3 linked regions of the Homo sapiens genome follow. The protein of the gene in region 1 purifies or fractionates together with the protein of each later gene. This does not show direct contact. Each region holds a gene or a part of one and is shown on either strand. Other genes may lie near its edges. The genes, in order: PRR27, CACNG6 and GNPTAB.

The links.
Region 2: the proteins of PRR27 (region 1) and CACNG6 purify together in Homo sapiens (affinity purification with mass spectrometry; one large-scale study listed by BioGRID and IntAct). This does not show direct contact.
Region 3: the proteins of PRR27 (region 1) and GNPTAB purify together in Homo sapiens (affinity purification with mass spectrometry; one large-scale study listed by BioGRID and IntAct). This does not show direct contact.

Annotation. Positions count from the first base shown.
Region 1 is NC_000004.12:70,164,181-70,167,207, reverse strand, and holds the end of PRR27 (proline-rich protein 27 precursor), read right to left. Parts: 3' UTR 599-3,027; downstream 1-598.
Region 2 is NC_000019.10:53,990,182-53,994,534, forward strand, and holds the start of CACNG6 (voltage-dependent calcium channel gamma-6 subunit), read left to right. Parts: upstream 1-1,455; 5' UTR 1,456-2,696; coding exon 2,697-3,027; intron 3,028-4,353. UniProt on the Homo sapiens protein: Regulates the activity of L-type calcium channels that contain CACNA1C as pore-forming subunit.
Region 3 is NC_000012.12:101,747,903-101,751,036, reverse strand, and holds part of GNPTAB (N-acetylglucosamine-1-phosphotransferase subunits alpha/beta precursor), read left to right. Parts: intron 1-1,845; coding exon 1,846-1,936; intron 1,937-3,134. UniProt on the Homo sapiens protein: Catalyzes the formation of mannose 6-phosphate (M6P) markers on high mannose type oligosaccharides in the Golgi apparatus.

The sequences.
Region 1 (3,027 bases):
TTGTGCAGATCTGTACAAAGATTACATGACAGAAGATGTCTTCTCACTGGATTGCCACAGCAAAAGTGGAGAAGTTTGGTACTTTAAAATATCACTGGTGTATTTCTACACTGCATGTACCATTGGTCCATTATCTGGTTATATAATAAAAATAAGTAAATTAACATTTCAATCAAGGAAAAGCATCAAAACATGAAGGTAGGATTTAGCATTCATGTTGCCCTTTTACACACTCTGATTTAAATTCCAGCCCTTAAGTTACAGGAATTTACTTATTGTATTTTCTCTAGATACAGCTTAATAAGAAATGGAGGACGCTATTTTCTTACTTTATATTAAAAATTTTAAAGTTAATGAAGATACTGTTAATATTACCTTAAATTTTTTGATAGTGACCATAATTATTACACCAATTTTCATAAAATAATTTTTGAGAGTTAAGAATTGGGATACACACATGTGGAATTAAAAAACATAAAGCATTAAAACATACTTAAATGTAAGAATGTTATGGTGCTACCTCTTCACTGAATGAATCACAGTTGCATCAAACATCTCCCCACTAAAAACAAGAAAAAAAGTGACTTACTTCAGTTAGTTATTTCAATAATATTTTAATAATGTTTGCTATTAGAATCCATGGTTATTCGTATTCAAAATGGTTAGAGAAAATGTTCTTATTGGTGTCATACTCATATATGGATTTTGTAACTTATCGACATATGTAGTCATTTAAAAAAGATTATCCATTGTGATATTGGTGGAAAATAGTATTTTCTCTTATAATTTTTTATTTCAGTTTTGGGTTAAGATTTTTACTATGCATGCACATGCACACATATATACATACACACATATATGCATGTGATAATATAAATAATGAAAAGTTTTATTCAGGCTACTTGCAAAGGTCTGAGATAAGGCCTATAATTAACTTAAATTAGTCTATAAGTTCTATAGCATAATGTAGGAAATATAGTTTACTTTTTAGTCAAATAAAATGTGATATATTTGATCTTTCATGGCAAACATCAATTAAAGTGAAACTATGAATACATTCAAAAATGTGAAAAGTCTCAGAAATATAAATGTTGAGTAAAAATAGTAAATTGTGAAATGACATACCATTTATTATATGTCTTGTTTATATACATTTTTAAAACTCATAAAACTCTTTTATATATTAAGTGCCACATAAATGCATACTAAAATTTTAGAAAAAAGCCAGGGAATTATACACACAAACTTATACCTCTTTGAGGTCCTGACTTTCTGGCCACAAAAGAAAGAAATAGAAGAAAGGATGTATAGTGGGCCATCTGGCAATCACTGGAGAAGTATAGTGGTTGTTGCAGTTGATACCAGTGTGAAGGTGTGAACATTTCTTAATCGTAAATGCGAATAGTTACCTGTCTGTAGAAAGTAGCACTGAATAAGAATCAGTCACCTTCTGTAAGCAATGACATTATATCATTTTCCAGTGGCTAAAGGGAACGCTATACAGTAAAGAATTATGTAAGATGGATATAAACACACATACAAAACTCTGCAAATGTATCTTAATATCGATCAAAAGATATGACTCAAAATAATTTCGCAGTAGCATTTTTCTATAAAAAGCTCAAAAATAGGCAAAAGTGAACAATATTATTTTATAGAATACATTAGAGGTGGAAAAATCATTTTTAAAAGTAGAATGAATTACCCTAATCCACTAAGTAGTTTTTAACTCTACAGATAAGGAAGAAGGTGGATTCATAAAGCGACATTAAACAATACATGCAGTGATGGAAATGTTTTATAATTTAGTGTGAAATTTCCAGATGGTGGTGGTTACATGTATGTTTTCTTTTGGATTATTTATGATAATACAAACTTGTATGTAGTATTTTGAATGTGTCATAGACCTTACCAAAAATAGTCTTTAAAATGTATAATTAACAACATTTTTGACTAATTGAATGCAATAAATGGAAGACAAAGTAATTGAGGAAGTTCCCAATCTTCTGGTTTGGATGACTTTTCTGTGTCTCAAAGCTGATGCCTGTTTACTAACAACAGTTTGTTTTCCACAGTGGAAATTACCTCAATTCAAATGTTAGTGTTTACCTTTCACTCAATCTAACTCATCTCAATGTAGTCAGGAGGAAAAAAATGAACACTAAAAACAAAATATTATTGTAGTGATAGACTTAAATTTCATACTTTCACAACTGACAGAGCAGAACATTTCACAGTATCTTGTAGTAAAAGCAAAAACTGTAAATGTTTCTCATGATAAGATGTCATGTTTATTTTTAAAATTCCAAAATTTTCTTGGAATAAATTCTTTCTTTTACCCCATGAAAAACTTAACAAATGACTACATTCTAAATGTGATACTAAACACCACATAATGTACCATTAGCAATTATAATTTGCTAAGACTTTGTAGCCTCTTGATATTTCTATTTCGGTTCATCTTCATCTTTCTGTTGTTTCTTATACAGTCATATTTACAAATTCTTCTTTAAGTCTTCAATTCACACAAAAAGCCTGAATTTTGACAACATAATCATTAAAATTGACTATCATGTATGATTACAAATTTATCATTAAATATTTAGAAGTGAATATTGCATGTATCTGTGAAAGACAGATACTATAATAGTTTCAGATTATTGGCTAAGTCAAATTAAAGTTAGATCCTACTTGGCTCTAGAAGATGGAAGCAAACATCTCAAGTTAACAATTTTACTGTCTAAGAAAGTTTCTCATTTTTTGAGACCATGTCCTCATGGCTATACATAACAGTAATATTCTGATCCAATGTAGGATATAGGGAAAAATACAAAATTATTTCAAAATAAAAATATGTTGAATGTTTGTAAAAATTTTTTCTTCCTTCATTCTTTGTTTGTTACTTCATTCTTTCTTCTTTTCTTTCCTTCCAAAAATATTCACTGGTCACTGAATATGTCCCAGGCATTGTTATAGGCCCTGATAAAGTGCTGAATAAGACACAGAAATGCCTGTTTTTATGGAGCA
Region 2 (4,353 bases), on another chromosome or scaffold:
GGGGTGCCCCGTCTAATAAACTCGATGAAGAGGAGTGCTGCTTTCATTCTGTGCCCCTGACAGCCGGCCCTGCCCTGAGGCCTGCGCTTTCTCCAACATGGAAATCAGGCCTTCCATCCTTCAAGACCCAGGGTTCTGGCCCCAGTCTCCTCCCTGAGGCCCAGGACTCTGGGTCTGCCAACGCCTTGACCAGGAGTCCAGGCTCCCCGGCCCTCCTCCTCCCTCAGACCCAGGAGTCCAGGCCCAGCCCCTCCTCCCTCAGATCCAGGAGTCCAGGCCCCCTGCCCCCTCCTCCCTCAGACCCAGGAGTCCAGGCCCAGGCCTTCCTCCCTCAGACCCAGGAGCCCAGGCCCCCAGCCCCTCCTCCCTCAGACCCAGGAGCCCAGGCCCCCAGCCCCTCCTCCCTCAGACCCAGGAGCCCAGGCCCCCAGCCCCTCCTCCCTCAGACCCAGGAGTCCAGGCCCCCAGCCCCTCCTCCTTCAGACCCAGGAGTTCAGGCCCCAGTCCCTCCTCCCTCAGACCCAGAAGTCCAGGCCCCCAGCCCCTCCTCCCTCAGACTCAGGAGCCCAGGCCCCCAGCCCCTCCTCCCTCAGACCCAGGAGTCCAGGCCCCAGCCCCTCCTCCCTCAGACCCAGGAGTCCAGACCCCCAGCCCCTCCTCCCTCAGACCCAGGAGCCCAGGCCCCCAACCCCTCCTCCCTCAGACCCAGGAGTCCAGGCCCCCAGCCCCTCCTCCCTCAGACCCAGGAGTCCAGGCCCCCAGCCCCTCCTCCTTCAGACCCAGGAGTTCAGGCCCCAGTCCCTCCTCCCTCAGACCCAGAAGTCCAGGCCCCAGTCCCTCCTCCCTCAGACTCAGGAGCCCAGGCCCAGCCCCTCCTCCCTCAGACCCAGGAGTCCAGACCCCAGCCCCTCCTCCCTCAGACCCAGGAGTTCAGGCCCCCAGCCCCTCCTCCCTCAGACTCAGGAGCCCAGGACCTAGGAGACCAGGTTCCTCTCCTCTCAGATCCAAGATTCTGGGTACCCAGGCCTTCTTCCTCTACCACTCAGAAGTGGGGTACCGAGGCTTCTTCTCCCTTAGGGACCCAAGACTCCTGGCCTCAGGCCCTCCTCCCTGAGACCCGGGGCCCTGCCTCCCGCCCCTCCTCCCTGGTAACCCCAGTCAGACTTGCTGCCCCGCCCGTCTCCTGCTGCCCGGGAGACTGCGGAGCTGGGACTCTCGGCGCCGCTCTTGCCCCTTAGTGAAATGAAAGTCCCATCAGGCTCGGCCCCTTCCTCCCCGGGCGGCCTCCCTCCCCCCTTCCTCGTCCCCTTAAAACACCCGGGATCCCTATGGCAACAGGCGCCGGGCGACAGGTGCGGGTGTTATTTACGGGTCAAGCCCGAAATAGCCCCGAGGGTGGAGGGTGGAGGGTGGGGGGTGGGCGGGTGGGGACGAGGCCGGGCGCGGGCGGAGGCCAGGCCGGTGGCGGTGGCGGGCACAGCCGGACGCTTCGGAGGCAGCGCGGAGCTGGGGTCGGCGCGGGGCCGAGGCAGGAGAGCGAGAGGGGCCCCTGCTCGGGAGTCGGGGGTGGGAGCCCCGAGGGGGGGCCCTGGCCTGGGGCTGAGCCTGGCGCGAACCCGACCGGGAAGGCCCTGGGAGCCCGGGGGAGGGAGACGGACTGATCCCGAAGGGGCGCAGCGTCTCTTGCGGGTCGCGGTTGGCCTTTGAACCCTGGGGGGACTCAGTCCTGGTTTTCCGAGCCGCAGTGCGGACCACAGCCCCATAGTGTGAGCCCCAGGAGGGCCCCCGGTCCCATCTGCCCCAGCCCTCGGGGAGGCCCCGTAGCCTCCCGCCTCTGGACTCCACTCTGTCTTCCGGCCACCGGCCCCTTTTCCAGGCTCAGTAGAGACCTCGGATCTTTTCTGAATGGCAGGGGAGACCCCTATCCCCTTTTCCTGAATTCCAGCGAGGCCCAGTCCTCTTCTGAGCCCCAGCCAGGGCTCTGTTCTTCTCCTTCTGTGGATGCCGGGGTCCTACTGCCTCTCTTGAGACCCGGATTGAATTCCGACCTCCCCTTGGGAGCTTCCCGGGACCCCAGGTCTTCCTTTTCCGAATCCCAGAGGGTCCCCAAGTCCTCTGTTCTCAAACTCTGAGCCCAAGGGAACCCCGGCCACATCTCCTCCAAACACACACAGGACCTCAGGTCCCTTCCTGGGTACCCCAAACTCTTAGCCCTAGTGGGGTGCTCAGATCTCTCAGGAAAACCAGTTTCCCTTTTGTTAACCCCCCAGCGGGGACCCCAAAGCAGCCCCTTGGAGCTGCAGGGAGCTTCAGCGGGCACCAGTTCTCATTCCTCTGGAGCTCTTGGGGGGACTCCCTCCTGGGAAGCCGAATTCTATCTCTAAACCTCAGGGTGGGGGCCTTGTTTTTCCTCTGGGCCCCGTCTTCTTTGCCAAGTTCTTGAGGGCAACCTAGACCCTCCTCTGAACCCCAGAGGCTTCCCCAGCCCTGGGGATCATTTTTCTCTTCTGAACCCCAGAAGCAATCTCGACTTTCGCATTTGAGATTCCAGACAGGACTCGGCTCTCCCTCTTTCATACCCAGGGGAAACTGAGTCCCTCACCCCCTTCAAGACCCCAGGCCGCTCCTCGCTCCCGCCCCTCGAGGCCCTTCGCCGGCTCTGCCTCCTCCCCCTTCCCGACCCCACCGGCCATAAGATGATGTGGTCCAACTTCTTCCTGCAAGAGGAGAACCGGCGGCGGGGGGCCGCGGGCCGGCGGCGGGCGCACGGGCAGGGCAGGTCGGGGCTGACGCCCGAGCGCGAGGGGAAGGTGAAGCTGGCGCTGCTGCTGGCCGCCGTGGGCGCCACGCTGGCGGTGCTGTCCGTGGGCACCGAGTTCTGGGTGGAGCTCAACACCTACAAGGCCAACGGCAGCGCCGTGTGCGAAGCGGCCCACCTGGGGCTGTGGAAGGCGTGCACCAAGCGGCTGTGGCAGGCGGACGTGCCCGTGGACAGGGACACCTGCGGCCCCGCGGAGCTGCCCGGAGGTGAGCAGCCGCCGCCCCGAGCGCAGGGCTTGCGTCCCACGGACAGGGAGGGAGAGGGGCCCGTGTCCGAGGAGAAAACCCGCCCCAGGGACAAAAGCCTGAGCCCGGAGGAGACAGCTTGCCTCGCAGTAAGCGCCAGTGCCCACTTCGTCCTCTGCTCTCAGAAACTGCTGAGAGATAGAGGGATCCCCCAGATATGGCCCAGGTCCCTCACGGGCCTACCGCCAGAGAACCTGTGCCTTAGAGCTTGCTTTCCTGCTACAGACTGTACCCCAAGACCAGAATGTGCCTACAGGGAGTCTGTGCCCCCAGGCCATCCTGTACCCCCAGACCAGGCTGTGACCTGAGACCCCCTCAGACGAGTCTGTACCCCTATTCTGCACCTCTAAAGAGAGCTTGTGCCCCCGCCTACAGCCTGTGCCCCAAGACCATCCTGTACCCCGACTATCCTGTACCCCCAGATGAGCCTGTGTCCCCAGCTACAGTTTCCACCCCCAGACTAACATGCACCCCTAGACCAGTCTATACCCCCAGACCAGCCTGCATCCTTACACCAGCCTGTGCCCTCAGATCAGCCTGCACCTCCACACCAGGCTATGGTCCCAGATGATTCTATGACCCCCAAAGTCCCTGCCCCCACACAGCCAATGTTCCCAGGCATCGCTGTGTCCCCCCAGACCAGCCTACAGCTCTAGAGAGAGCCTGTGTCACTAGAAAAATCTTGCCTGTGTCCCCAGACCCAGCCTGTGATTCCAGACACAGCTGGTGTCCTCAGATAGCCTGTGCCCACCCCAGACAGCCTGCACCCTCTGGAAGTGCCTGTGCCCTGGAGACAGCCCGTGCCCACTCTGCATGTGCCCACAGACAGCCTGTGCCCATGGAGAGACAGCCTGGGTTCCTGGTGTCAGCTTCCTCTTCCCAGCCTGGAGACAGCTTGCGCTCCCATCCTGTGAGCCCTGGGGAGACAGACGCCCACCCCAAAGCAGGATCTATGCCTGTTCCCCACCTACTGCTTCCACCAAACCAAGCTCTCACCAGACGCCTCCCAACACCCGAGGGCAGACCTTGTTCCTTCCCTGCAATGTTCTTCACTTCCTGTCCTCTCGCCTCCAAATGCCCAGACTGGACATTTCAGCGTTTCTCATTTTCTCCGAGAGACATTCCCATACTCCCTCCTTTCCCAAATCATGGCTGTTTTATCCCTGGGCATGGCAGAGAGCTGTTCCATACCTCCCTGACACGCCACGCCACGGCTTGTGCTTATACCAGGGGGACATTCTATACCCCTTGGGAACTGGATGAAATCTCCTTCTACCTCCACTGACC
Region 3 (3,134 bases), on another chromosome or scaffold:
AGTGGGGAGGTTGGAGTGGTGAAGAAGTTACTTAGAGTGGGGCAGGGTTGCCTGGGAACTGGAGGCAGGGAGACAAGTATATAAGCATTTCACTAGTCCTAGAAACAGTCAGTCAGGTGTGAACCAAGGATACAGCCTAGGCAATAAAGAAAAAGCAATAGACGAACTGGGAGACACTTTAAAAGGGAAATTGGCAGACCCTGGCACTAGAACTCCTCGGTATCTTGGAGTTGGGCAAATGAGACAATTAGGATGAATATTGCTGCTATCTTTATGTTTTTATTTTCATAAGGAGAAGTTATTACTGAATCATGGGTCTTGTCTCCCAGAAATGGCAAGGAATGGCTTCTCACCGTTTTCACTTTCCCTTAACTCAGAGGAAAAAGATCTTTAGGTGGTTCTAAGTGTTAACTCCCCAAATTCAATTTGTGACTAAATTTACCCTCAAGGGTCCATTTGAATAAGAAAGAAGTGGGCTTAAAAGTAATTTGAGAGGACCTTGATTTCTGTGCTGTACAAATGGTGTGAATCAGGTGTGGGTGCTCTTGCAGTCATTCCCCTGCCCTGGAGGTTGCTTGCTCCTCATCCTGCTTAGTTCTGCATTGTCTCTCACTGCACTGACACTAGACATTAGTTGACAGAGCTGGTTATGATCCTATTAACAGAAGTGGGAAATACAGGGGGAAGAGCTGTGTGTGGGCGAGTGCCGTTTTGGATGTGTGACTTGAGGTAGAGACGCCCAAACAGTGGAAAATGAGAATCTGTAACTCAGCACAGAGGCCAGAGTTTGGTAGTTACTAGCATATCTTCCAAACCTATGGTAAGCATTTTTATTTAATCTTCGTAACCAATTGTTCATTATTTCCAAATTACAGATGAGGAAATGGCTGTACTGCCTCTTTTTATCCTCAGTATTCTCTTGGCTCCAGGTCCAGTTGATTCTACCTCAGGAATGTCTCTTCTGTTGCTTATTTCTTTTCATTGTCACTGCTTCCTTTCATGCCTGGACTAAAACTAAACTGCCTGCCTTCCTTGTTTGTCCATCCTTCAAATGGCCAACATGTTTACCCTGATTATGTCACACATACCCCCACCTGTCTGTTTCATCCACTTTCCCACTAGAGTGTTCTGTCCAGACCCCACGGTGTGGTTTTGCAAAGCAGCTGCAGTTCATACCCTCTCGCCTTCACCTGGCTTAGTTCCCCCCATGCTGCCGCATGGATTCACTCCACTCAGTCCTGTAGGGCCCAGCTGGCCACCGTGCCACTCTACTGCTCCTTCTCTTTCTCATCCATATGCTTCCTGTCCCCTTCAAGGCTTACAGGAAATGCCACCATCTCTGTGGCACTGTCCTCATTTCTCTAAGTTTTTCACATGACTTTGCTTTTGATAATGCATATTTCTGTGTCTTATGTGATGGCAAGTCATCAGTCAGCATGTCAGCAACGCCTCAGTTTTCTAAACACTTAAAAGCAGGGACTTCATCTTGTTCATCTCTCCATATACGCAGGAAGTATTTATCAAGAAACTGAGTGAATAAATAAGTATGAGTGAATAAAAATGAATGAAAGAGTGGTTTTGTTTAAGTGCCAGAAGTAATTTTCTTTTGAAGTCCTCTCTCCTGCCTGGATAACTTCACTAATTCAAGTATAATATTTACTATGACATAATAAAAAATCTGAACTCGTGTTGGAAATGTATATTGTGTGAGCATTTTAGAATTGCAAGACAATGTTTTTGTGTTTCCCAACATTGTTTTTATAGAACTAGTATATAAATAATGCTTAACTAATGGTAGTGAAACCATATACAGAAGTACATAGTTGCTTTCTTCTCTCTGCACAGGAGGGCTTATCGAGACAAATTGAAGTTTTGGACCCATTGTGTACTAGCAACATTGATTATGTTTACTATATTCTCATTTTTTGCTGAGCAGGTAAGTTTTATATATTTTATGTGGGTATTAAATGGTATTTCTTGGTATACTAGCATCTGAATGTTTTAGAAAATGATACACATTTACAATCAAAATTTTAACTTCTCTTATTGTCTTATAGCTCATATGTGAATATGTTAAATATGTTTCACAATATTCAGGCAGCAAATATAACAGTCTTTTATTCATTTCTCTTCTAAATCCATTACCAGTATTCTTTTTATCTGGAACTCAACAGATTAACTTGTAGATATCAGGCTAAAACCAAGTAGCTCTAAGTATTTATAACCAAAAAACCATCTAGAATCCTTATCTAATGTTAATTTTCTATGGGTCTCCAATTTTCTTCCTCTCTTTCACGCTTCCTTGAGTGAGCACAGTGTCTTCAGACATCCCACGGTTCCGTTGTGTTGTCCCACTCACACCAGTAGCTCCCATTTATCTTTCTTTCAATCGCTAGGAGTTCTCCCTCCTCTCTCCTCCTTCCTCCTCTCCTTGTCAGCCCCTCTACACCTGGGCTTTCCTCTGCATGCATGTACACACGCAGCCTCCTTGAGGTGAGTGTCCAGAAGTCGGAGGGAGATTTGTGAGGTAAAGAGAAAGGGATAAGAGAGTCCTCATTAGGCTATTCACATATCAAATACTCTGAAGAAAAAGGATTGAAGGAGGGGAATGGGCATCTTTACCAACCTGACTTGGGTGTGGCAAGTGACTTGGCCTCTGCCTCCAATCAAGGTGACTATTGAGTGGAGCTTTTCTAGCTGTCACTCAAATGAAACGTACACCAAGTTGACTTATACCAAGAAGGACAAGCACCTAAGTACTGAGAGCTTCAGGATAAATGAATGGGCTTCTTGCTGTAAATGGAAGGAAATTCAGGAAACAGAGACTGGGCAGGTGAACAGGACAGCAACTTAACCTTCATCTGCTTTCCAGGGATTGTACATCTTGTTCTTGATGTCTGTTACCATTGTTCCTGGCAGGTAAAAGTCTTATGAAAAATCTCAGAAAGGCTGTACCTGCTTTTAGAACAGGGTCCAGTGAGAAACCTTTGAGTCTGCTGTGCTGACCTAGGATGGGGAAGGAAAGGAGCCCTGACTCAAAGGAGCAGCCATTAATGGAAAGGAAGAGGAGTGTCAGTCTTTCCTCTATCTATACCAGTAGAGAATAGGGAACTAGAGAGGCAGTCTTTCCTCTA